3 separate regions of the Homo sapiens genome follow, and regions 1 and 3 are each linked to region 2. The links come from fine-mapping of genetic effects on gene expression. A gene starts in region 2. Each other region holds a variant in brackets. All regions are shown on one strand. Distances are between the middles of the regions. Region 1 overlaps TMEM11-DT (TMEM11 divergent transcript). Region 2 holds the start of NATD1 (N-acetyltransferase domain containing 1). Region 3 overlaps TMEM11 (transmembrane protein 11).

Region 1 (8,178 bases), 33 kb before region 2:
CGACCCTCTCCTTGTTGAGGATTCCTTTCGATTTCCTTCCAGCTGACATTCTACCACAGTTTTAGCTGCTTGCAATCCTCTCACCGTCCCTCATCACCTACAGTGTGTGATTCAAATTCCTTAGCACAATCAAGAAGCCCCTCCTTAGTTTGGAAGTTGCCTAGCTCTCCAAATTCAACTGCCTACCTTTCCCGTCTGGAACTTGCCAGGCTAGTAAATTCAGAGGGTTTGCAGATACGTAGATGTTCTATGCTTTACCTAAAATGCTTTTACCTCCCAGCCAACTTTTTTTTTTTTTTTTGAGACAGAGTCTTGCTCTGTCGCCCAGGCTTGAGTGCAGTGGTGCGATCTTGGCTCACTGCAACCTCCGCCTCCCAGGTTCAAGCAATTCTCCTACCTCAGCCTCCTGAGTACCTGGGATTACAGGTGGTGCCACCACACCCAGCTAATTTTTGTATTTTTAGTAGAGACGGGGTTTCACCATGTTGGTCAGGCTGGTGTCCAACTCCTGACCTCATGATCCATCCCCCTCAGCCTCCCAAAGTGCTGGGATTTACAGGCATGAGCCACGGTGCCCAGCTCTCCCAGCCAACTTTTGTCCTTCAAGACCTTGTACCTGTCTGGTCTCTAAAAAGTACCTGGCCTTCCTGTTGAGTCATACAGCCCTGCCTCCAAGTGTCAGCGTAGTTCATGCTGGAGACCTCTTAACAGTTCCATGGTATGACACTGCGGATATGGCTGTCTTTTCTTTGTATCAGTGTGGTGATTCAGAGGGTATACTAGGGATTCTAGAACGCACTTCTGGCTCAGGGGCTGCTTGTGTAACTTCTGTTTCTCAGCTGCCTGGTTTGTATCATGGGATGATAGTATCTCCCCTCAGAGGATTGCGGTATTTCATGAGGTGATACGTGTATGGAGGCCAAGTGCTGTTTTATATTTTAAGTGATCTACATCTTGATTTTCACAACAACTGTATAAAAGTGATACTGTTGGCCAGGTGCGTTAGCTCACGCCTGTAATCCCAGCACTTTGGGAGGCCAAGGCGGGTGGATCACCTGAGGTCAGGAGTTCAAGACCGGCCTGGCCAGCATGGTGACACCTCGTCTGTACTAAAAATACAAAAATTAGCCGGGCATCGTGGCACACGCCTGTAATCCCAGCTACTCGGGAGGCTGAGGCATGAGAATCATTTGAACCCGGGAGGTGGAGGTTACAGTGAGCTGAGATCGCACGACTGCACTCCAGAATGGATGACAGAGCAAGACTCTGTCTTAATAATAGTATCACTTTTTTTTTTAATCAACAATCTCATTTTGTAAATGAGGAAATCAACTTACAGACGACCTGAGTGACTTGCTCACACTGCCAGCCAGGAAAGTGCTAGGATTTGAGCCCAGACTGTCCAGTTACAGAGATTACACTCTGCCATTGTGCCTCTCCAGAAGCACTGGAGGTAGGTCTAGTGCATAGAGTAAATGTAAATGCTGAAACAACTGTGGCCCTAATGAACATCCCATTTCTCCAGCTTTTTACTCTCCCCTTAACTTCTGAATGACCGTCTGCTTCTAATCTGCCAACTTGGTCTAAGATCCTCACGGTGTTTCCTCCTGATTACTGTTAATGCACGGAGGTTGTCTGGAAGGTTCATAGGCAGCCTGATTGACTCAGTATGTATTAGCTGAGCACCTTTGGAGGGCACAGCCTGAGTGGTGGGAATTAGTTCCTGGGGGCTGTCCTGCGGTGGAGACTCCCGTGAGCCCTCTGTCCTGCTGTATGAAGGCAGCCAGTGGAAAGGCATGTCCTCGCTGGTGCTCAAAGTAATCTGCTACTTCTCTTACTACACTTTTCATTCATTCATTCTTAAATCGTTGAAGGCATACTCTGCAGGTACTCTTGGGCACAGAGATACGGTGTTTAGTAAGACAAACACTGTTCCTGGGTCTTAACGGGCTTTACATTCCAATGGGATAAACAACTTAAGTAAATATTTTCAGAGAGGAGTACCAAGAAGAAAAGGAACAGGATGATATAATGGAGTGACTTGGAGATCACAGGTGGTAAGAGGTCACTCTAAAAAGGTAACATTTGAAGGCTGGGCACAATGGCTCACACCTGTAACCCCAGCACTTTAGGAGGCTGAGGAAGGAGGACAGCTTGAGTCCAGGAGTTTGAGGCCAGCCTGGGCAACATGGGGAGACCTTGACTCTACAAAAAATTTAAACATTAACTAAGTATGGTGGCACGTGCCTGTAGTCCTAGCTACTGGAGAGGCTGAGGTGAGAGGATCTCTTGAGCCCAGGAGTTTGAGACTGCAGTGAGCTATGTTTGTATTACTACACTCCAGCCTGAGGGACAGAGTGAGACCCTGTCTCTTAAAAACGAAAACCCGACTGTATCAAAAGGTAACATTTGAGTGGGACTTGAAAGAGTGTGCATGCGAAGGACTGAAGACAGAATGTTCTGTGCAGAGCGAATTAATGCAATGGCTTTGCAGTGCAGATGGGCCTGGGGTGGTCCAATAAGGTTAGGACCAAGGTGGCTGGAGCATCATGAGACAAGCGTGGTACTTAGCTTGCCTTTGGTTAAGTCACTTTCTCTATTTGAATTTCAGTTTCTCACCTGTAAAATATGAGTAATTTTATCTGTATTAGCCAGTGTGTAATTAGAGGAAAAACCATTTAATACAGGGTATTGTTTACAAAGGTGTTGGAAGGGCATGAGAAACAAGGGGAGAACAAGGGCACCCAAAGCCTGACCCCCACAAGGCTAGAGGAGCAACAGGAAAATTCGTTTCCAGAGACTGATTCCTCAGCTGCTGAGCAGGAGCCTGGAGCCACACTTGCTGCCTGGTACTACTGACACACAACTGGAACCACCGCTGTGGCCTGGGGTGCCACCAGAAGCCAGAGATTAGAATTGCTTTCCCCATCTCATATCTTCCAAACTCCCACCAGTGCCTCCCACTGGCTGAGTCAGATGACAAGGGAGTCTGGGAAATGTAGTTGTTTGGCTTCCAGCCCTGACCATGGAGAGTATAGAAAGGCAGGTGTAGGGGAGAAAATAGATGCCATTCACACAGCGCCTATCTTGCAGGGCTGTTTTGAGGAGTAAAAACTCAGCCTATTTTTATTCCTCATAGCATGTAGTAGCATTCAGGGAAAGGCAAATCTTCCAAAACAATATCTTAGGTATAATAGTTCTACATAAAGGTTTGAATTTACCATTAAAAGCATCAAAATGAGCATTTTAAAAGTAGAATTTTAAGTCTGAATGGGCAGTATATTCACATGGTATAAAATTCAAATTACAAAACAATATACAGTGAAAAATAAGGGGGTTTTTTTGCTCATCTTCTTGTGACCTGGCTCTTTCCATCTCTGTCCACAACCCTCTGCAGGCAATAACTGGTACCTTTGTTATGGATCCTCTGCAGATATAAAGTAGACATATATTAACAAATGTTTTCTTTGGCCCAGAGGATGCATATTATGCACATTCCTCCATTTCTTGTTTGTTTTTGTTTTTTCCACTTAATTGTATCTTGGAGATCACTCTGTATCAGTATATATCTGATTTGTTTTAGCAGTACATGATAATCCATTGTTTGGATATGCCATAATTGTATCAGCCAGTCTCTGGACAGTCTTTTACTATTTCAAGGAGTGCTGCAGTAAACATGTTTGCGCCACTTCCTGGTACCCATTGCAAATA[A/G]AACTGGGATAATTTCCTGACGAGAACTTGCTGGGTCAGAGTGTAGGCACTTGTTGTTTTGATAAATATTGCCAGACTACACCCCACTCCCTCCAGCAGTACATGACACTGCCTATTTCCCCACAGCTGTGCCAGCATGGTCTGTTAGCAAGTGTTTTCTTTTTGCAAATTTAAAAGTGGTATCTCGCTAAATGCAATATGGTAGCAGAGGACATTTGTGGAAAAACAGGTGAAATCTGGGCTGGGTGTGGTGGCTCATGCCTATAATCCCAGCACTTTGGGAGGCCGAGGCAGGCGGATCACAAGGTCAGGAGTTCGAGACCAGCCTGGCCAATATAGTGAAACCCCGTCTCTACTAAAAATACCAAAAAAAGTTAGCTGGGCATGGTGGTGCAAGCCTGTAATCTCAGCTACTCGGGAAGCTGAGTCAGGAGAATCGCTTGAACCTGGGAGGCGGAGGTTGCAGTGAGCCAAGATCATGCCACTGCACTCCAGCCTGGGTGATGGAGTGAGACTCTGTCTCAAGAAAGGAAAAAAAAAACAAAAAACAGGTGAAATCTGAATGGGGTCTTGAGTTCAGTTAATAGTAACTGCCAATGTTGGTTCTTAGTTTTGACACATACCATGACTATGTGAGATGTTAATGTCAGGGGAACCAGGATGAAGGCTATACAGAACTGTACTATTTTTGCGACTTCTCTGTACATCTAAAATTATCCTTAAAAAGGTTTCTTTAAAAAATGACATCTTGTTTTCTGTAAAATTTGAATTTCTCATGAGTGAAATGGAACGTTTTGAATATGATGCTCTTTTTAAAAGGTGGCCTTAATAATTTGTATTTACTAAGGAAAAAAGTCAGAGTTTATTTACTTTAAAAAAATTCAGGCCGGGCGTGGTGGCTCATGCCTGTAATCCCAGCACTTTGGGAGGCTGAGGCGGGCGGATCACGAGGTCAGGAGATCAAGACCATCCTGGCTAACATGGTGAAACCCTGTCTCTACTAAAAATACAAAAAATGAGCCGGGCGAGGTGGCAGGCGCCTGTAGTCCCGGCTACTCTGGAGGCTGAGGCAGGAGAATGGCGTAAACCCGGGGGGTGGAGCCTGCAGTGAGCAGAGATTGCGCCACTGCACTCCAGCCTGGGGGACAGAGCGAGACTCCGTCTGAAAAAAAAAAAAAATTCATTAACAGTACATTTAAAATTTCTGTTACTGGAGATTGTATTTCTCATTCCATCCATTAATGTGCAGCTTCAATGTTTTCCCCCAGATATGCAATTTCACTTACAGGATCTTGTTCTTCAGTGACATGTCATAAGAGTTAATAATTCCACAAGCCACCCTGCACTGCTGTGATCCTAACAATATTGAAAGGTTGGTGTGTATCCTTTCCTACCTTTCCTCATTCTAAAATGTTTCCTCGTTCTAAATGCCAAGCTGGTTTTGAACAACTGACCTCAGGTGATCCACCTACCTTGGCCCCTCAAGGTGCTGGGATTATAGGCATGAGCTAACATGCCCAGCCCTAATCTGCTCTTCTTAGATGGATACTTGTCAGATTGGGTTAAGACCCACTCTCATGGCCTCATTTTAACTTAATTTTCTCTTTAATAAAAGTCCAAATGCAGTCCATTCTGAAGTACTGGGAGGTTAAGATTGTGTTATTTGAATTGAAGTGAGGGTGAGGGGCAGGGGCACACAACTCAGCCCATAACACGTAGGATTAAAAAAATTCTTCGGGTCCGGGGAGGTGGCTCACACCTATAATCCCAGCACTTTGGGAGGCCAAGGTGGGAGGATCACTTGAGCCCAGGAACTGGAGGATGCAGTGAGCTATGACTGCACCACTGCACTCCAGCCTGGGTGACAGAGTGAGACCCTGTCTCAAAAAATAAAGTGAAGCCTCAGCCTCAGCATACAGTGAGGCAGTGTGTGTGTGCAGTGAATCGAAGTTCCAGTCATCATTACTTCATTTCAGGGCTCCACACTGCCATCTGGGCATCCCCAGGCCTCTCTGGACTGGCCCTGCCCCACCCTCATGGAGGTAGCCTTTACCTGGCAGGCACCTCAGAGGCTGGTCCTATATGTCACATCATTGAGATAAAAAGAAATCCAAGGCTGGAAGCAGTGACAAATGGTGTGGACTTGGTGGAAGTTGCCCAGGGAGATGGATGAGAATGGTGACATCACACATAGCACGGCTTTTTCTCCAAAATCCCAGGACTTACCACAGTGGCCACACTCTGTCTCTCACCTGTTCACTTTCTTCTGCTCGCTCGCTCTCTCTCAGCCTCCCCTGTCCCACCTTTTCCATATGCGAAGACTCTCCCCCAGCACCCCTGTGGTGGTTTAAAAGCATGGCAGCAAACTCCTCGGCATTCCTTCCTTCAGGGTGGTGCCTAAGTCCCCTCCCAGGGAATCTGAGTGGGCCTATAACTGCTTCAGTCAGCAGGGTGTAGAGGAAGTGATGCTGAATGACTTTTAAGGTTGGCTCCTAAAAGGCCATAGAGGCTCTGTCACTGGAGCTCCCTGTGCTGTGATGGAAGTCTGAAGTCTTAATGCTGAAGAAGCCCAAGCCATGTGGAGAGGCCAGGTGTCAAAGCTCTAGTGAGCATCACAGCTGAGCAGGGACAGGGCCCTCTGCTTCTTGTGGAGCCCTCTCTAGATTCCCCACACACAGAATCCACAAGCAGAATGAAGTGGCTGTGATTTGATGCCCCTGGTTTCCTTGTTATGCAGCAGTAGATCACTGAAATCAACCCCCTTCTAAAGGCCTCTCTGCAGACATTCTCCACTTGGTGAGACCAAAGCTAGCCTAACAGGGCTCAGCAGCAGAGAAGCCCAGCCATTGGCCAAAAAAGCCACTGGCTACCATGCAGCCAGGATGTCCTTGGGGAGCCTTGATCTATCCCACCACATCAACATTTCCACCTCAGACATGGGAAAGGCACCAAGGTGTGAGCATGGGCAGTACTCCTAGGGAACCCCAAGCACACCCCATTGCCCCAAGATGCAAATGGAACTCCTCACTGGTCCCATAGTTTTACAATGTGAGTCTAGGAAAGCACAGATGAGCCCTCTTTTATGTTATTGTCCGCCTTGGCGGAGAATGGAAACAGCAAGAATGCTGAGCTTGTGGTGCAGACTTGGAGATGCATTTGTCACTAGAACCTTAGCGCGTGCTTGTACAACCCTGGTGGTGGAGAGATGAATGGACGAGGCCCCTCCTTTCCATAGCTCATGTGGCCAGCCCCTCATCTAAGGCAGGGGCCAAAACAGAGCAGGAATGTGGAAGGGTGGCCAGCTGTCCTGGCTTGCCTGGGCCTGAGGGGAGTCCCAGGGCATGGGATTTTTAGTTTTAATATTGGGAGAGTTTTGGGCAAACTGGGCCAAGTTGGTCACATGAGGGTGTGGCAAGCAAGGCAAAGATGGTTTGATCATTGCAGCCCCTCACTTCCCATAGCTCACTGCAGAGCCTGTGTCATCCTGACAACAACGATGTGGAAGGTGAGACATCTGGCAGCATTTTGACTTCATGAACTGGGAAACGCACATGGGTGGAGGCGCCTGCCCACGCTGCCCAGTGTCTCATGGTGGCCACAAGAGGCTGCGGCTCCTGTTGCTCAAACAGGGCCCTGTTCTTGTCCAGCATTTCCACAGCAAGGCCCCTGCTCACACCAGACACTTCCAGGGAACCCTTGGCCAGATGACAGCAGTTGCTCTGGTAGTTAACGTTATGGGAAACAGATTCTAGGAAGCGCCCATGCATCGCATCACACTTTTTCATCTCTCCTTCTGTCCATCCTTCTGCCCACTCCTAGTTAGGGCATGTGTGCTCCAGGCTGGGAGCCAGGGCAGCCTCATGGGTCAGCCCCATCCGCAAGGAACCCATGTCTGGGGAGACAGGCATTCAAGAATGAGATATTTTCAGGTGAGTGCTAGGCAGGCGATATCACTGAACATACTTAGGGGTGAGTGGGGAAGGAGGTCTACCTAGGTAAGGAGGTATGTGAGTCTGTCCTAGCCAAATACCACAGACTGGGTGGTTGAAACAACACAGTTCCTGCTCACAGTTCTGCAGGCTGAAGTGCAAGATCAAGGTGCTGGCAGATCCCGTTCCGGCTGAAGGCAGATGTCTGCCTTCTTGTGTCCCCACATGGCTGAGAGACACAGAGAGTTCTCTCCTTATAAGCATACCCTTTCTGTCAGATTAAGATGCCACCCTGTGGCCTCATTGCACCTTCGTTGCCTCCTAAAAGCCCCGTTTCCAAGTACAGTCCCATTCTGAGGTCCTGGGAGTTAGGTCCTTAACACAGGAATTCTAGGCGGACACAATTCAGTCCCTAGCACCCCCGTTCCCAGTTGGATCAAGGCCTCAAAATGAAGACAGGCTTGTCTCACCTCACCTGTCCCTCTTCTGAGAAGCTGCAAGACTGAGAGGGAGCTGGAGATAATAGGTTGATTTGGGA
Region 2 (8,178 bases):
CCTCCGGGGACCCTTCCTTCTCATTTCAGGTGAGCCCAAAGGTCACGTGCCCAGAAGCCTCCCCTGACCACCCGCAGCCCCCATGATGGGACAGCAGGACACCAGGGTAGCACTGTCAGCCACGCTTTCACTTCTGGGCACTGTGGATCCTGCTGTCTCGGCTCACAGTGACATAGGCATAGCCTCTGGGCCTGGCCCAGGCCCTTATCTGGGCAGCTCTAAGAGCTGCCTTGAGAACTCCAGACCTCAGACTAGCACAGGGGGGCAAGACTTGTCACTTGGGAGCCACAGGAGCAAGCCTAGGGCAGGGCAGGGCCCTCAGTTCCAGTCTCAACTCTGCCAGGTGATCTTATGCCAGTCCTGACACCCCTCTGCCCCAGAGACCTCACCTGTCCCTGGATGATCACTACCACCCTCCTCCCTCCTGGGCCTGAGAACCCCACCAGCATCACGTGACTGGTTTGGGAAAAGTTAAAGCTACACTGCTCGTGGGGGACCCGTCCCTGGGTCTCTGCACCCCCATGCTCTCTCTGCCCCTCCTGAACCTCGGGACCAAAGGGGGCCAGGAAATTGTCAGGGGAGGCGATCACAGAGAAAGACCAAAGCTTGCAGACAGGGGACAGGGGCAGGACCTCTGGGAGATGTGGAGTCTGCAGAAGACATTGACCTCTGCTTTCTCCACTCGGCCCACACTGACCCCGCAAGGAGAGCTGGCAGATCAAAACGCGAATATACAGATGAGGAGACTGAGGTAGACGGAGGCAGAGCCCAGGCGCCAGAGCTGTGGCACGGGACAAGGACAAGCAGACACCCTGGCCGGCTTTTCTGGCACCTCTGTAAGTAGAGCCTGGATCAGGGAGGTGCCACATGTTGGTGGTTCATTGGTAGATTAGGCAGAGGGAGCTGTGAGCCTGGAGAAGCTCAACCATACGTCCCTCCCCTCCCCAGAGGACCCTGGTCCAGCCCAGCCCAACACAGCCAGCGGCCTCATATTGGGGCTGTGATCTGAGCACCTCCCAAAGCCTGGGGCTGTGATCTTAGCTCCACTGCATCCAGGGGTGCTGAGGGAGGCCAGGGGCAGCAGCTGACTCTCTGGGGCCTCAGTCTTCCTGGCTGCAAAATGGGGGTTAGGGAGGACGCAGAAAGTTCCAGGGTTCTGCACCCCTCAAGTGTTCCTTTCCTTGCAGCAAGTGGGACACTCAGCCCTGCCTGTGAGGGAAAGGGAAGGCTAAGGAAGGGGCTGCCCAGGAGGTGGGGGTCTCTTCCAGCTGCCTCCAACCTTCAGAAACCGTCCTCAGATGGAGGCCGGGGGCTTGATTCTGGCTTAGCTGCCTACAGGCTGTGCGCCTTGGTTTCCCCATCTATAAAGTAATGACAAGCTTGCATTTCAGAACCAGGATATGGCATCAGACAAGCCTGAGCTCAAGCCTTCCCTCATCACCCACAAGCAAGTCACAGCCATGCTTCCTTCCACATCTGTCCAGGATCTAGACGTTTCTCCCACGCCTGTTTGCAGTGCCTGGACTAGTAAAGTAACCACCTCCCTGCTCTGTCCTGGTCCCCACAGTTTGCTCCCCTTAGAGCAGCAGCTAGAGGGAGCTGGGGCATCCCATCTGTCTTCTGCTCAGGACCCTCCTGGGAGCCTCAGAGTCAAAGCCGAGCCCATAGGACAACGGCTTCCAGGCCCTGCACCACCTGCTCCCCATGACCTCTTGACCCATCCTGCACACACAAGGCATCGCAGGCACTGCAGAGCCTTTGCTCTTGCTATTCCCTCCACTTGGAACACTCTTCCCTGTTGCAGCTCTGTTTCTTGCCTCCTTCAGGTCTTCACTTAAATGCCACCCTCCAGGGAGGGGCCTTCCTAGACACATGATTGTAAATAGCAGCCCTGCCCAACACAGCCTCCCCTCTGCCCCCTGCACCTCTCATGAAAGCCCTTGTTTTCCAGGATACTTTAAAACTGACTCTATTTCTTGTCCATTTCCCTCTCTAAACTGTCAGCCCCAGGAGACCCCGACACCTAAAAGAGTGCTTGGTACATGGTAGGTGCTCAACAAATACTTGCGGGGTGAATCACAGCTCTTCCACCTCTGTGGTGCAAGACTTTGGGCAAGTCATTTCACTTCCCCATGCCTCAGTCTCCCCATCTGTATATGGGAAATGCAGTTTCCCCTCTCCCTGTGGTGTGTGGCTATGAAATAAAGTGACTCCAGGTGCCCAGGGCCTCCTAGAACACTGTAAATGCTTAATAAACAAAGGTGCTCAAACGTTTTCCCTCACTCAGAACCAGAGCTCGCAGGAAGAGAATCAGCCTAGCTGTGCTATGTGGACAGCCTAGGAACACTTCTGCACCAGGAGCCTGGGGCTACCTGACCCCTCAGCCTCAGTGTTTATATCTCTCAGTGGGCACAACAGCACCAGCCTCCAGGCTTGCCTTACAGGTCGGGAATGACACCACAGCCTGTTGTCCTCCTCAGCTCAGGGAGGCCTGGGCTCAGACTCAGACGACCCCTCTCTGGTCCCAAGACACACACCCAAACCCAGTGGGGCCTGGAAGCCCAGAAGAGCCCCACCCTGTGCTGCACAGCCACTCCCTTGGGGGCCTCTGGCCTCTCTCTTCTTTCTCCCCTGGGCTTGGCTGGGGAGATGCCCAGCCACATCTGTGGTCAGCTATCTGGGCAGTGAATTCCAGAAGGGGGTAAGTTTAGAAATACGGCTGGGCATGTCCAGCCCTGACCACGGCCAGCTCTGGAGGGCTGTCCTTTGGCTGTACCCACTTGGAAGAGAAAGAAAAAGAAAAAAAAAAAAAAAAAACAAACGTATCCCCTCTTCTTTCTGTCTCTGAGTATAATGGCCCTCCCGAGCCCACAAGGGAACCAGAGGCCGCTCTGGAACCTCAGAAGAGAGGATTTGAAAGCCATGAGGCCTCTCTCCCAGAGTCGCCAGGGCCCCGAGTGTCCTGGCCAGCTGAGCCCTGCCAGCACCACAGCAGTAGCAGGACTTGCCTCTGCCTGGTGGTGTAGGGTTGGTTGGGCCAATGGTGAAGTTCTGGGTGATGCTGGGCAATCACTTCCTAAGGTCCCTAGCCTCAGTTTCCTCATCTGTAACACGGGGTGGTATGTCACAACATTGTCAGGGTATTGTGACAGTCCCATCCACGAAGCTGTAGTGGGGCCTGGCTCGACACTCGGCACATTCCAAATGGCATCGGAGATCTGGCAGAGGCCCCTCCTGGCTGAAGCCAAATGTGGGTCGCAGGAGCCCCACCGTTCAGGGAGTCAGACCAGTCAGGACGCCATCCCAGCTCTGCCCAACTCTCAGCCTGACCTCTCGCAAGCCTTTCCCTTTCCTGGCCCTCCACCTTCCCTTCTTGAAAATGGGCACAGTGGCCCCTAAGGACCGGTCCAGCTTGGACATTCCCACTGGGGCGAGGTGGGCCACAGGGAGTTCATAGCCCTTGTTTTTGTAGTTCTATTTCCTACCTGTGGGACCTCCTGAGGGGGGATGGGCTAATCAAAACTTCTCTACACTGGCAGGGCGTGGTGGCTCACTCCTGTAATCCCAGCACTTTGGGAGGCCATGGCAGGTGGATCACCTGAGGTCAGGAGTTCAAGACCAGCCTGGCCAACATGGTGAAAGCCTGTCTCTAATACAAAAATTAGCTGGGCATGGTGGTGGGTGCCTGTAATCCCACCTACTCCTGAGGCTGAGGCAGGAGAATCACTTGAACCCAGGAGGCAGAGGTTGCAGTGAGCCGAGATTGTGTCACAGGAACATTGTGTCGCCTGGGCGACAGAGTGAGACTCCATCTCAAAAAACAAAAACTTCTCTACACTAAGGGAGAACTTGCCCTTGCTTTCTGGCTTCACGAATCACGATCGGGCCACGTTTACCAGCACTTACTAATCCCCCATGAGCTGGTCTGATCCTTTACATTTGTTACAGTCTTTCATCCTTACAACTAGCCAATGGGGTGTGCACTGGTATTATTCCCATTGCAGAGAGGGAGAAACTAAGGCACACAGAAGTGAGGCAAATGGCCAGTCCCAGAGCCACTGAAGTCTTGATAGTGATAGCCATCCCCCCGCCCCTCACTCCCCCCAGGGGACCACAAGCCCCTTTCGCGGTCAGCCCCAGGTCCGCAGGCCTCCCCCGTGTAGAAAGACTAAGATTCCCAGGGGCAGCAGGAAGCCATATACCACCCGCAGAAGGGGACAGGTCACGGCTGACCAACTTTCCAGGATCTCAAACAGGAGCCTTCAGTGGGTGCCCAACAGTCGTGAACAAGTGGGCCTGAGCAGGTGCGGGTCCCCTGCGGCTGAGACAGGGGACCCGCGCTGCCCCAGCTCCTGCCTCTGCCTTTCCAGGGGCCCCTGTCCGCCCTGGCCCCTGCTCTCCCGGGAAGTCTGCCCCCGCCCAGCCCGTTCCACTTCCCGGAGCGCCGGCCGCGCCCCCACCTGGCCCCGAGCACAACCCGGCCCGCGCCCGGAGCTCCGGCCGCCCGGGACCACCCCGCGGCGCGCGCTTGCAACAGCCTTCCCGGGCGGCGGGCCGGAGCCGGGCCGCGGGCGCGCGGGGGACAGGCACCCAGCAAGGGGGCGGCCCCGGCGGGCCCCGCTCGCTCGCAGACAAAAGGTCGGGGCGGGCCGGGGCCGCCTTACCGTTGAGCCGGACAGTGAACTGGCGGCGCCGGCGGTCGTGCTCCACGCGGATGGGGCAGCCCTGCTCCAGCGCGCCCAGCGGCACGGCGGCAGCCGAGTGCGCCATCTGCGCGCGGGGCTGCGGCGCGGCGCCGGCGGGGGCCGGGGCGCGCGGGGAAAGGTCAGGCGCGCGGCGGGGCTGGAGCGCGGGCGCAGGCGGCAGGCGGTGGGGTAGTTACGGCCTGGGAGACCGCAGGCGGCGGCGCTGAAAGTGACACTCGGCGGCGGCGGCAGCAACAAAAAGGGTGGGGGGGGGGCCAGGAAATCAGCTGTGAGGTCACGTGCGGCGCGCAGCCAGTGGACGCGCGGCCTTTTTGTTTTGATACATTCCAGTCACCTCTTAAAGGGGCCGCGCCGGCCGCGTTCCTCTCGCAGCCCCAAACAAAACAACACGGGCCGCCGCCGCGCCGCGCCGGCTACTTTTCCGTCTTGCGTTTGTCCCACGTGCAACTTTGGGACCCCCGCAAGGAGCCTTCTAAAAAAGACGTAACAATCTTTTGTATGGACATTCTAATCGTCCCCAAGGCAGCCACCATTTATTAAGCACTTGCTGTGTGCACGGCCTGTGTATAGCAAAGCCCTGGCGCACAGGGCGCTCAGTAATCACTGCGCTGAGATTTATCACCAGAAGCCTGAGAAATAGGTATGCTTGACTCCATTTTACAGATGAGCAAATAGAGGCTAAGACAAGTGAAAGACATGCATAAGTTCTCACGCAGCTGAAGCCCTGGGGCTACTGGTGCTAGGAGTGCGCACCCACCCGTGTTGGCAGCCTGGGTGGCTACTGGCTACTGGGAAGGAATTGTCCTGTGAAGCCTTGTTTGGGATAGGAGTGAAATGCCACCTCTCCCAAAGAGAGGCGTAAATGCGGGAAGAGGCCTTGGGGATCCCTGGATCCACTCCATAGATGGGGAGGCTGAATCCCAGAAAGGGGCAGGGACTTGCTTGAAGACACACAGGACTGTTGGGGCTCAGACTTCTTTGAAAGGCGCCTTAATTAGGCTCCTCAAGGCTCAACCTTAGAGCCACACCCTCCCCTCTTGCTCACCTGAAGGGGCACTCCTGTTGCCCATAGCTGTGCAGTGAATCATACAGGTTACTTTTAATATTTTGCTAATTACGGTGCAAACTTGATGTTCACACCCGTGTGACCACCATCCAAATCAAAATACAGAACACTGGTGGTTCCCTAGGGCCCTCTTCCAAGCAATGCCCTACCCTTTGAGGTAACCACTGTCCCTGACTTCTAGTGTTGTTGACTAATTAGGTTTCTCTAGACCATCATGTAAACATAATCATACAATATATACTATTTTATTTTATTTTAAGACGGAGTCTCTCTCTGTCGCCCAGGCTGGAGTGCAGTGGCTTGATCTCGGCTCACTGCAGCCTCTGCCTCCTGGGTTCAAGCGATTCTCCTGCCTCAGCCTCCTGAGGAGCTAGGACTACAGGGCTACAACAACAAGCCGGGGTAATTTTGGTATTTTTAGTAGAGACAGGGTTTCGCCATGTTGGCCAGGCTGGTTTCAAACTTCCAACCTCAGGTGATCCATCCGCCTTGGCCTCCCATCGTACTGGGATTACAGGCATGAGCCACCGCACCCAGTCCAATATGTACTTTTAATGTCCAATTTCTTTTGCTCAATATTTTATCTGTGAGATTCATCCCTGTTTTTGCATCTTTTTCGCCACTGAGTAATTATTCCATTGTGTTGACAAAAAAAGCCAAACTGTAAAATATTTGAAGAGCTTATTCTGAGCCAAATATGAGTGACTATGGCCCTGGACACAGCCTCAGGAGGTCCTGAGAACATGTGCTGGAGGTGGTCGGGTTATAGCTTGGTTTTATACATTTTAGGGAGACAGAAGTTACAGGCAAAGACCTAATACCTGTAAGGTGTACATTGGTTCGGCCATCCAGAAAGTGGTGGGGGCTTACAGCTCATAGGTGTATTCAAATATTTTCTTTTTCTTTTTTTGAAACAGGGTCTCGCTGTGTCACCCAGGTTGGAGTGCAGTGTCGCCATCTTGGCTCACTGCAACCTCTGCCTACCTGGCTCAAGCCGTTCCTTTGTCAGATATATTTACCGAGAATATCCTCTGATCCTCCCATCTCAGCCTCCCAAGTAGCTAGGACCACTGGAATGGGCCACCACACCCGGCTAATATTTTTGTATTTCTTTTAGAGATGGGGTTTCACCATGTTGCCCAGGCTCAGGCGATCCATCCGTCTCAAACTCCTGACCTCATCCACCTGCCTAGACCTCCCAAAGTGCCGGGATTATAGGTGTGAGCCACCCTCACCTCGCGCCCCCACCCCACCCCCCCAATTCAAAGATTTTCTGATTGGCAAGTGGTTGAAAGAGTTAAGCTTTTCCTAAAAAGAGTTGATGTCAGAAAGAAATACTCGAGTTAAGATAAGGAGGGGTGTGTGGAAGCCAAGGTTCTTATTATGTAGATGAAGCCTCTAAGTAGCAGGCTTCAGAAAGAATAGATGGTAAATGTCTCTTTTAGGACTTTAAAAGGTGTCAGACTCTTAGTCAAATCTCTCCTTAATCAGAAAAAGACCCAGAAAGGGAGGGGGATTCTCCACACATGCAAATTTCCCCCACAAGAGATGGCATTGCAGGGCCATTCCAAAATAAGTCGAATAATATATTTTTGGGTAAAATTCGTTAATTTCCTTCGGGGCCTGTTATCTGTCATGCGATGCTATACCAGAGTCAGGTTGGAATTTGTTATCTTAGTGCTACAAAGAGTCTGTTTTGGGTCGGGCGCGGTGACTCACGCCTGTAATCCCAGTACTTTGGGAGGCCAAGGCAGGCGGATCATGAGGTCAGGAGATCGAGACCATCCTGGCTAACATGGTGAAACCCCATCTCTACTAAAAATACAAAAAAATAATTAGCCGGGCGTGGTGGCGGGCGCCTGTAGTCCCAGCTACTCCGGAGGCTGAGGCAGGAGAATGGTGCGAACCCGGGAGGCAGAGCTTGCAGTGAGCAAAAAAAAAAAAAAAAAGGAAAAAAAGAGTCTGTTTTGTCAGTCTAATTATATATATTTTATGGGTTTTTTTTTTTTTGAGACGGAGTTTCACTCTTGTTGCCCAGGCTGGAGTGCAATGGCACGATCTTGGCTCACCGTAACCTCTGCCTCCTGGGTTCAAGCGATTCTCCTGCCTCAGCCTCCCGAGTAGCTGGGATTACAGGCATGCACCACCACGCCCGGCTAATTTTGTATTACAGCGTGCTACCATCCTGGGCTAATTTTTTTCAGTTTCATAGAGTTGGGGGCCTCTCTGTGTTGCTCTGGCTGGTATCAAACTCCTGGACTCAAGTGATCCTCCTGTGTTGGTCTCTCAAAAAGTGCTGGGTTTACAGGCATGAGCCACCATACCTGGCCTTTGCTGGATCTTATAGTAGGTGTATATTTAGTTTTGTGAGAAATTGCCAGAGCTTTTTCCAAAGCGGGTGTACCA
Region 3 (8,178 bases), 43 kb before region 2:
CTCTACCCATGAAATGATCCCCCCATTCCCCACCAACCCCAAGCCCCTGCAAACTACCATTCTACTTTCTACCCCAATGAATCTGACTATACAAGTACTTCATACAAGTTGGATCATATATAGTATATGCCCTTTTGTGTCTGGCTTATTCCACAGAGCATAACGAGTCTTCAAGGTTCATCCATATTGTAGCATGTATCCGAATTTTCTTCCTTTTTAAGGCTCAGTAATGTTCCACCGTATGCATAAACCACATTTTGTTAATCCATTCATCTGTGATGGACACTTCGGTTTCCACCACTGGCTATTGTGAATAATGCTGCTATGAACATGGGTGCACAAACATCTCTTTGAGTCCCTGCTTTTTTTGGGGGGGGGGTATATATACCCAGAAGTGGAACTGCTGGATCATATAGCAGTTCAATTTTTTAGTTTTTTTGAGGAATCTCTATACTGTTTTCCAGAGCAGCTGCACCATTGTACATTCCCACCAGCAGCGCACAGGGGTTCCCATTTCTCCATATCCTCACCAACACTTGTTATTTTCCGTTTTCTTTTCTTTTGAGGCAGTCTCGCTCCATTGCCCAGGCTGGAGCGCAATGGCGCTATCTCGACTCACTGCAACCTCCGCCTCCCGGGCTTAAGCGAGTCTCCTGCCTCAGCCTCCCAAATAGCTAGGACTACAGACATGTGCTGCCACGCCCAGCTAATTTTTGTATTTTTAGTAGAGACAGGGTTTTCACCATGGTGGCCAGGCTGGTCTCGAACTCCTAAGTGATCTGCCAGCCTCAGCTTCCCAAAGCACTGGGATTACAAGTAAGAGCCATTGTACCTGGTCTCATTTTCTTTATTTTTATTTGTTTATTTATTTTGTGGAGACGGAGTTTCACTCTTGTCACCCAGACTGCAGTGCAGTGGCACAATCTCGGAGCACTGCAACCTCCACCTCCTGGGTTCAAGCAATTCTCTTGCCTCAGCCTCCCAAGCAGCTGGGATTACAGGCACGTGCCACAACGCCCAGCTAACTTTGTATTTTTAGTAGAGACAGAGTTTCTCTATGTTGGCCAGGCTAGTCTCGAACTCCTGATCTCAGGTGATCCCAAAATGCTGGAATTACAGGCATGAGCCACCATGCCTGGCCTGATTTGTATTTTTTAATGGCAGCTTTACTGAGATAGAATTCACAGCTTTACTGAGATAGAATTCACAGAGCAACTCCCCCATCGGAGGTGAACGATGAAGTGGCTTTCCCAAAGTTGTGCAACCAATAGCACAACTGATCCTGGTGCATTTTCATCATCTCAGAAAGAAACCCTGTACCAATTAGTGGTCCCTTCACATCTCCCCAGCCCTCCACAACCACCAGTCGGCTTCCCAACTCTCTGGATATGCCAATTCTGGGTATTTCATTTAAATGGAATCCTGTAACGTGGTCTTCAACAACTGGCTTCTTTCATTTTGCATTATGTTTTTAAGGGCCATCATGCTGTGGCATGTTTATTACTTTTCACATATTGTAAACATAACTTTTGATGTGTTTAACATATAACTTTAAAAAATCTAAGATAAGGCTGGGCATGGTGGCTCACGCCTGTAATCCCAGCACTTTGGGAGGCTGAGGTGGGCAGATCACCTGAGGTCAGGACTTCAAGACCAGGCTGGCCAATGTGGTGAAACTGTGTCCCTACTAAAAATACAAAAATTAGCTGGGCGTGGTGGTGCATGCCTGTGGTCCCAGCTACTTGAGACTGAGGCAGGAGAATCGCTTGAACCCCGGAGGCAGAAGCTGCAGTAAACCGAGACTGCACCACTGCATTCCAGCCTGGGTGACAAAGTGAGAGTCCGTCTCAATAATATAATTTTAAAAACCCCTAAGGCAAGATATATAAGACAAAGTATCAAAGGTGCTATACATGAAAATAGATCAGGCTAGGCGCGGTGGCTCACGCCTGTAATCCCAGCACTTTGGGAGGCCGAGGCGGGCGGATTACCTAAGGTCAGGAGTTTCAGACCAGCCTGGCCAACATGGTGAAACCCCGTCTCTACTAAAAATACAAAAATTAGCCAGGTGTGGTGACAGGCGCCTGTAATCCCAGCTACTCAGGAGGCTGAGGCAGGAGAATCGCTTGAACCTAGGAGGTAGAGGTTGCAGTGAGCCAAGATCACACCACTGCACTCCAGCCAGGGGGACAAGAGCGAGACATTGTCTCAAAAGAAACAAGAAAATAGATCAACAGTGGTTTTCTTTGGATGGTGGCCTAATAGGTGACTTGTCAATTTCTTCATGCTTTTCTATATTTTTTAAAAAAAAGTGTTTCTTTTTTTTTTTTTTGAGACGGAGTCTCGCTCTGTCGCCCAGGCTCAAGTGCAGTGGCGTGATCTTGGCTCACTGCAAGCTCCGCCTCCTGGGTTCACGCCATTCTCCTGCCTCAGCCTCCAGAGTAGCTGGGACTACAGGCAATCGCCACCACGCCCGGCTAATTTTTTGTATTTTTAGTAGAGACGGGGTTTCACTGTGTTAGCGAGGATGGTCTCAATCTCCTGACCTCGTGATCCGCCCACCTCGGCCTCCCAAAGTGTTGGGATTACAGGCATGAGCCACTGCGCCCGGCCAAAGTGTTTCTTTTATAACAGGAAAAATAATTATAAACTTATTCTTAAAAAGAAAAATTCTGTTCAACCCTATATCCCTTGAGGTAAAGGGACCAGATACCCGTGGGAGGGCCTCCTTCCACTGCCAAGAAGAGCGGGAGGTGGCTCACTTCCTGCTCCAGAACCTTCTCGGTGTCCATGAAAGGCAGAAGTCTGGACGCGGGCAGCTTCTCATGGCTGAGGTGTCATGCTGGTGTGTACCTGTAGTCCTGCCCAAAAAGAGGAGGGCAGTTCCAGCTCCGTTTCCCTTGAGCAAACACTGGCTAAGCTGCCAGGCCAGCCACCAATCACCTTCCCAGTTCTGAGAGACCCAGCAGAGGCAAATCTGAGTGGAAGCATCCACATTAGGCCCCTTCTTGGAGTGGGGCCCGGGCTCACAGGCAGGCCTGAAGCTCCATGAGGGCAGAGGCTGCATTTTCATCGTAGTTTCCCCAGCACTGGGCCTGAATGTAACAGGTTCCCAAAAGACACAGGTTGGAGGGACATTTGTAATGATTACAGACATGAGCCACAGGAGTCACAGGAGGAGAAAAACAATTATGGTTATTAAGAGAACTGGTACCAGAAAAGTCAACCCATCCGTCAGGCTGCTTTTCACTTAGTGAAAGGGTCACTTGATCACCTATGATACAGGAGGTGCTGGGCTGGACCTCCACCCGCTTCTGCCTAATTAAGCCCTGCTTCTTTGGGACCCACAGAAAGCAGAGGACTGAAGCAGTGAAAGCCCGTGCCCCAGACTCAAAGGCACGGGCATGCGGCCCCATGGCCTGAGGACGGCTCCCACAGGCCAAGGAACTTTCACAGGACACCCAGCCCTTTCGTCTGCTTCAGAGGACACTTTCCTATTCTGCGCACTGGTAACTCAGCAGCCCTTCTATCTGGGGAGCAGGAACACGGCGCACCAAGTGTGGGAGTCGAGAGGGTGGATTCAAGTTCCCTCTCGGCTGCCTACTGGCTTTGTGTCCTAGGGCAAAACACCCGGCCCCTCTGAGCCAGTTTCCCATGTTGTCAAACGGGGCCAGAGGCCCTGGCTCTCCCAGAGGACTGCAGTGAAGATGGGAACAGTCGCCAAGCACTGCCCCTCTGCCTAAGACACATGTGGCTGTTGAAATTT[AAATT/A]AATTAAAATTAGACATCTTAAAAAATTCAGTTCCTGGCCGGGCACAGTGGCTCACGCCTGTAATCCCAGCACTTTGGGAGGCCAGGGCGGGTGGATTCCTTGAGCCCACAAATTTTAAGACCAGCCTAGACAACATGGTGAAAACTCTGCCTCTACAAAAAATACAAAAATGAGCTGGGCGTGGTGGTACATGCCTGTGGTCCCAGCTACTCGGGAGGCTGGGGTGGGAGAATGGTTTGAGCCAGGGAGACGGAGGTTGCAGAGATCCGAGATCATACCACTGCACTCCAGCCTGGGTGACAGAGCCAGACCTGTCTCATAAAATAAATAAATAAATGAAACCTCAGTTCCTCAGAGCCACACGTGGCTAATGGCTGCCCTAATGGACTGCAGGGACACGCCAGGAGTCTGTCATGCCAGAAACTCCTACTGGACAGCCCTGCTCTGAAGAACTGTTATGACTACTACATGGCTGTCAGCTTTTCCTGAGAACTGTGCCCATAAAGTGGCTGCTGGCACCAGGGCGGAACACCGTGGCAGTCAGGAGGTTCCCGGGTGTGCTCGGTCATGGAGTGCTGCCCAACTCCACCCCCCGCACCTCGCTCATTGAAGAACAGGTGCACACCGACAAGCCGGGGCAGAGGAGCCACCTCCCCACCTCCGTGGACCCAGGCGCAGCCCTCCCCTCTTCAGAAAGGGGAGCCTTCCCTGGAACATGACCTAAAGGACTGAACCACTGAGACACAAATTAATGCACTTGGAATCCAGGCTGCTTGAGTGAACCAAGGAAAACAGAAATTCTTGAAAACTTGAAGGCACATCAATACTGAAGAGGATGAACCCCATCCTTACCTACGAATCCAACTTCTGCGGCCAGAACATGTGGCTTTGCCTTTGTTAAAGAGCTGAGCAGAATCCCACAACCAGTGGCTAAACCCCCACACACTTGGGTGCAGATCCCGTATCTGCTCATCTCATCCCAGCCAGAAGGAAACAAAAACTCCCGCCACACACAAAAGCAAGCATGGAGTCTTTCAAGAGAGATTAAATACTCCCAAAGCCTGAGAGTCTAAAAGGGAAGGATCAGATCAGAAAGGGAAGCTGTCACCCCGGGACCATGACCCAACCTGCCCCCGGGGCCTGTGCTCCATCTGCTCACTGGATGAACGTGTAAGGGCCACCTGGGACCAGGCACACCTGAGTTCACAAAGAAGAGGACAGGTCCTGGGGAATAAAGCATGGCAAGGAAAGCCATGAAAGTCAGCCCAGGGAACTGGCTGCCTATAAAACGCTGGAGCAGATGGCCGCGCAAGCCAGGGGAGGGGCAGGCCACAACAAATAACTTCGCGCTAAACCTGAACTTTTAGCCCCGTGCATCTGGCCCTCTGCACACCCCAGGTTGCCTCATATCATGCTCAGAAGCAGATCAAGTACATCTTCACGTGATTATAAAAACAGGAACTCAAGAGCACACAGCTATACTCACATTCCAACAATCACGGAGGGCTCTGGGAGGTTCAGGGGCCCTGAGACAGTGAAGCCGAGCAGCCCAAGTAAGACAGGCAGGGCTGTCTGTGAGCTGGTCCGGGCTGGCACACGGTGGCAGAACACAGATACCTGCACTGTGCTTTCCTAGATGGGCAAGTGTGTCTCAAAGACGCCGACAGGACAAGTGGCAATCTGTTTGATGTGCTCGTTGCCAGTGTGCTGAATTTTGGACAAGAATTCAGGTTACAGCTCAGAGTCTGATGTTCTTCATTACAAACACTGTTGGTTCCCTAGATTTAATGGAGTGGAGAGAAAAATCAACATGCAAGCACTACCATTTTGCTATTTCCACCCCTCCTATCTTAGTCGAAACCAGCACTGTCCATATCATAACTTTCTGCAGTGATGGAAATGTCCTCCACCTATGCTGTCCAATATGGTAGCCACAGGCCGGAAGTGGCTATTGAGCACTTGAAATGTGGCTAGTGAGACTGAGGAGCTGAATTCTTCATTTTACTTAATTTTAATGAATTTAAATGTAATTGCCACATGTAGCTGGTGACTACTGAACTGCTGTGTTAATTCAGCACTAATTCTAGAGCTGTGGTTCTAGACTCAACAAGGTAAAGCAAGAACCCACACGCTACACGTGCTAAACTGGACCATCCAACACACAGCGCCGGCAGTAATACTGCAGGCAGTCTGGCACTGGGTGGGACCTTTAAGTACAATGCATGCTTCAGAGTTGGTAGCCGCTGGCAAATCTGGCAAGTGTGCCCAAAGTGTCACTCTGTTCTAGCCCCTTCCCCAAACCAGATAATGTTTCCCTCAGCTTCAGCAAAAGCAGATGCTAACCAGGTGTGAGCAGCAACGGGAGAGAGCACTCGTATAACATGGAGCTGAGATTTGAGTCAGCACGAATGTGACATGGAACAAAGTCATTTTAGAGAGCCATAAACAGCCTACTTCAGTCATAAGAGCCAATAATACACTCAGATCTCATAATCTAGAGTGCTGGGCCATCAGCTAATCCGCCCTGCCCCACCTGAACAGTCATCACCAACTGAGCAGGAATGGAGGGATGCCCAGAAGTCAGCTCGCTAGCCCCACAGCGGGTTATGTTTCCATCCCCTGCTCAGCATGGGAAGAGCTTAGGGAAGCTGGGCTCGGGGAAATGACTCTTCCAACAGAACCTGGCTAGGGGTTTACAGCAAGAGCAAACAGACAGGTAGTCTCCACCCATACCACGTTATCTAGGAGAGTAGATGGTGACATCCAAACTACAAAACCAAATGCCACATTCCTGCTGACACACAACATCTGCGTGTGTGAGTAGAGCCTTCAGTTCCAGGCCAAAGGTGCAACCTGAACACCTACAGAGACCAAGCAGGCAAATGCATTGAGTCAAGCTGACAGGTGATTTGAGTCAAGCTGTCAGGTGATTTGAGTCAAGCTGTCAGGTGAGGAACCAAGAACTGGAACCAAGCACTTGTCCCGACCAAAAAGAGTCAGCCACTACCCAGCTTTTCAGGGAGCGTTTTATATGAAATCTGCTGGCAACTAATTTAAATTCTCTTAAAAACTGTTGAGGTTCAACAGTCAAGGACTGGATCCAGCCTATGCACTGCTAATTTGCAGATCCATTTTGAATAAACAGTTGTCTCAAGCCAAAACAAAAACAATTCTCAGCATCTATTTTCTTAGATCAATAAAAGCTTAACCTGTGCTGGCAAGGCTCCTGTTCCCTGCCTGAGGCATCCCTATTCGGCTCTTTTCAGATGCTTTTAGTCCAACAAGAGGGCGTATGTTTCTAATACTTTGTTTTCTAAACAGGTTATTTCGTATTACTGTTTGCATTGAATATCTTGAAAATGTTTGCTAGTTTTTAAGAGCATCTGAAAACCATTGAGGTAACTTATTTAAATGGTCCAATCTAATACCAGGCGGGAGTTAGAAAAACAAAAGTGTGTTTACCACTGCTTTTCCAAGGAAGAGGAAATGCAGAATGGGCAACGCTGGATAACTGGGCTAAAGAATAAAGTGCAAGCAAGCTAAAGGATTCTATCACAACTGCCAAACAGGAAGAATCTTCCCAGCTGGGAAAGCCATCTGCAAGCAATAGCAATGAACACGGGATGGAATCAGTCACAGAAAAGGAATAATGCAGAGTAGTTGAGAGGAAGATAACTTTTCTGTTAGACAATCCTCACCAAAAAGACGGGGAGGGGGAGAACCAGCAAAACAAAAACTTTTCCTTTTTTGCTGACCGCTGCTATAACAATCAAGCTTTAGCGGACAGTTAATCCAGGTGGCTCCACCAATACATCTTCTCCCAAATTTCTAGTGGCTGAACAGCTTCTAGTGGTTTCCACTAGCTGAAACTGCTTCCCAGATGCAAAAACTGCAACTTGAACATGAAACACGGAAACTACTCCAATCTCATCTTCTAGAAATCAGTTATTCAAATGGAGGTCCCTGTTGGAAGAAACACGCTCCTAGCTCCCTGCCCACACACCATTCATTAGGAAAGGTCACTTTAAAGGACTTCTACGGCAGGAGCGCTTGCACAGAACCATCCAAAAGTCTTCAGAATCTTCCCTCGAGGAAGTGGCCGGCTCTGGGCTCGGAAGAGACACATCTGGCGGGAGCTAAAGCTCCCTAGTAAACGTGCAGATCAAACTACCCCTGCCGCGGCCGGCCTGCTCTGTGAAGGCTTCCCCTTCTTTCTCTCTCCGGGGGCCCTGCCTTCCTCTACACGTCTGGGGCCGCGGCCGAGATGGCCACGCGCGTGCCCAGGCGGGAAGGGTGCTTCAGCAGCCGATCGGCCCGCGGGCAGCTAGGCGGGTCCCTGAGGCCTGCGCTGGGCGCCAGTTCCTTTCAGCACGGCCCGGCCTCGGGCCCCGCCCCGCATGGCCGCTG

Evidence for each region. PIP is the estimated chance that this variant, and not a neighbour inherited with it, causes the effect.
Region 1: its variant is fine-mapped to the expression of NATD1 in whole blood (TOPMed, PIP 0.96).
Region 3: its variant is fine-mapped to the expression of NATD1 in whole blood (TOPMed, PIP above 0.99).

The regions. Positions count from the first base shown.
Region 1 is chr17:21,215,386-21,223,563 of GRCh38, forward strand. It overlaps TMEM11-DT (TMEM11 divergent transcript), which reads left to right. Exons shown (of 2, transcript NR_184102.1): 2 at 4,980-5,348. Among named protein-coding and RNA genes, the nearest start is that of TMEM11-DT, 5.2 kb to the left of the region's middle. The variant A/G (reference allele first, on the strand shown) is at 3,712.
Region 2 is chr17:21,248,495-21,256,672 of GRCh38, forward strand. It overlaps NATD1 (N-acetyltransferase domain containing 1), which reads right to left and starts at 4,916. Exons shown (of 3, transcript NM_152914.3): 1 at 4,665-4,916. The coding sequence starts at 4,770. RefSeq lists an enhancer at 546-1,047 and silencers at 4,538-4,657, 4,808-4,917.
Region 3 is chr17:21,205,679-21,213,856 of GRCh38, forward strand. All of the region lies in intron 1 of TMEM11 (transmembrane protein 11), which reads right to left. Among named protein-coding and RNA genes, the nearest start is that of TMEM11, 4.4 kb to the right of the region's middle. RefSeq lists an enhancer at 1-60. The variant AAATT/A (reference allele first, on the strand shown) is at 3,767.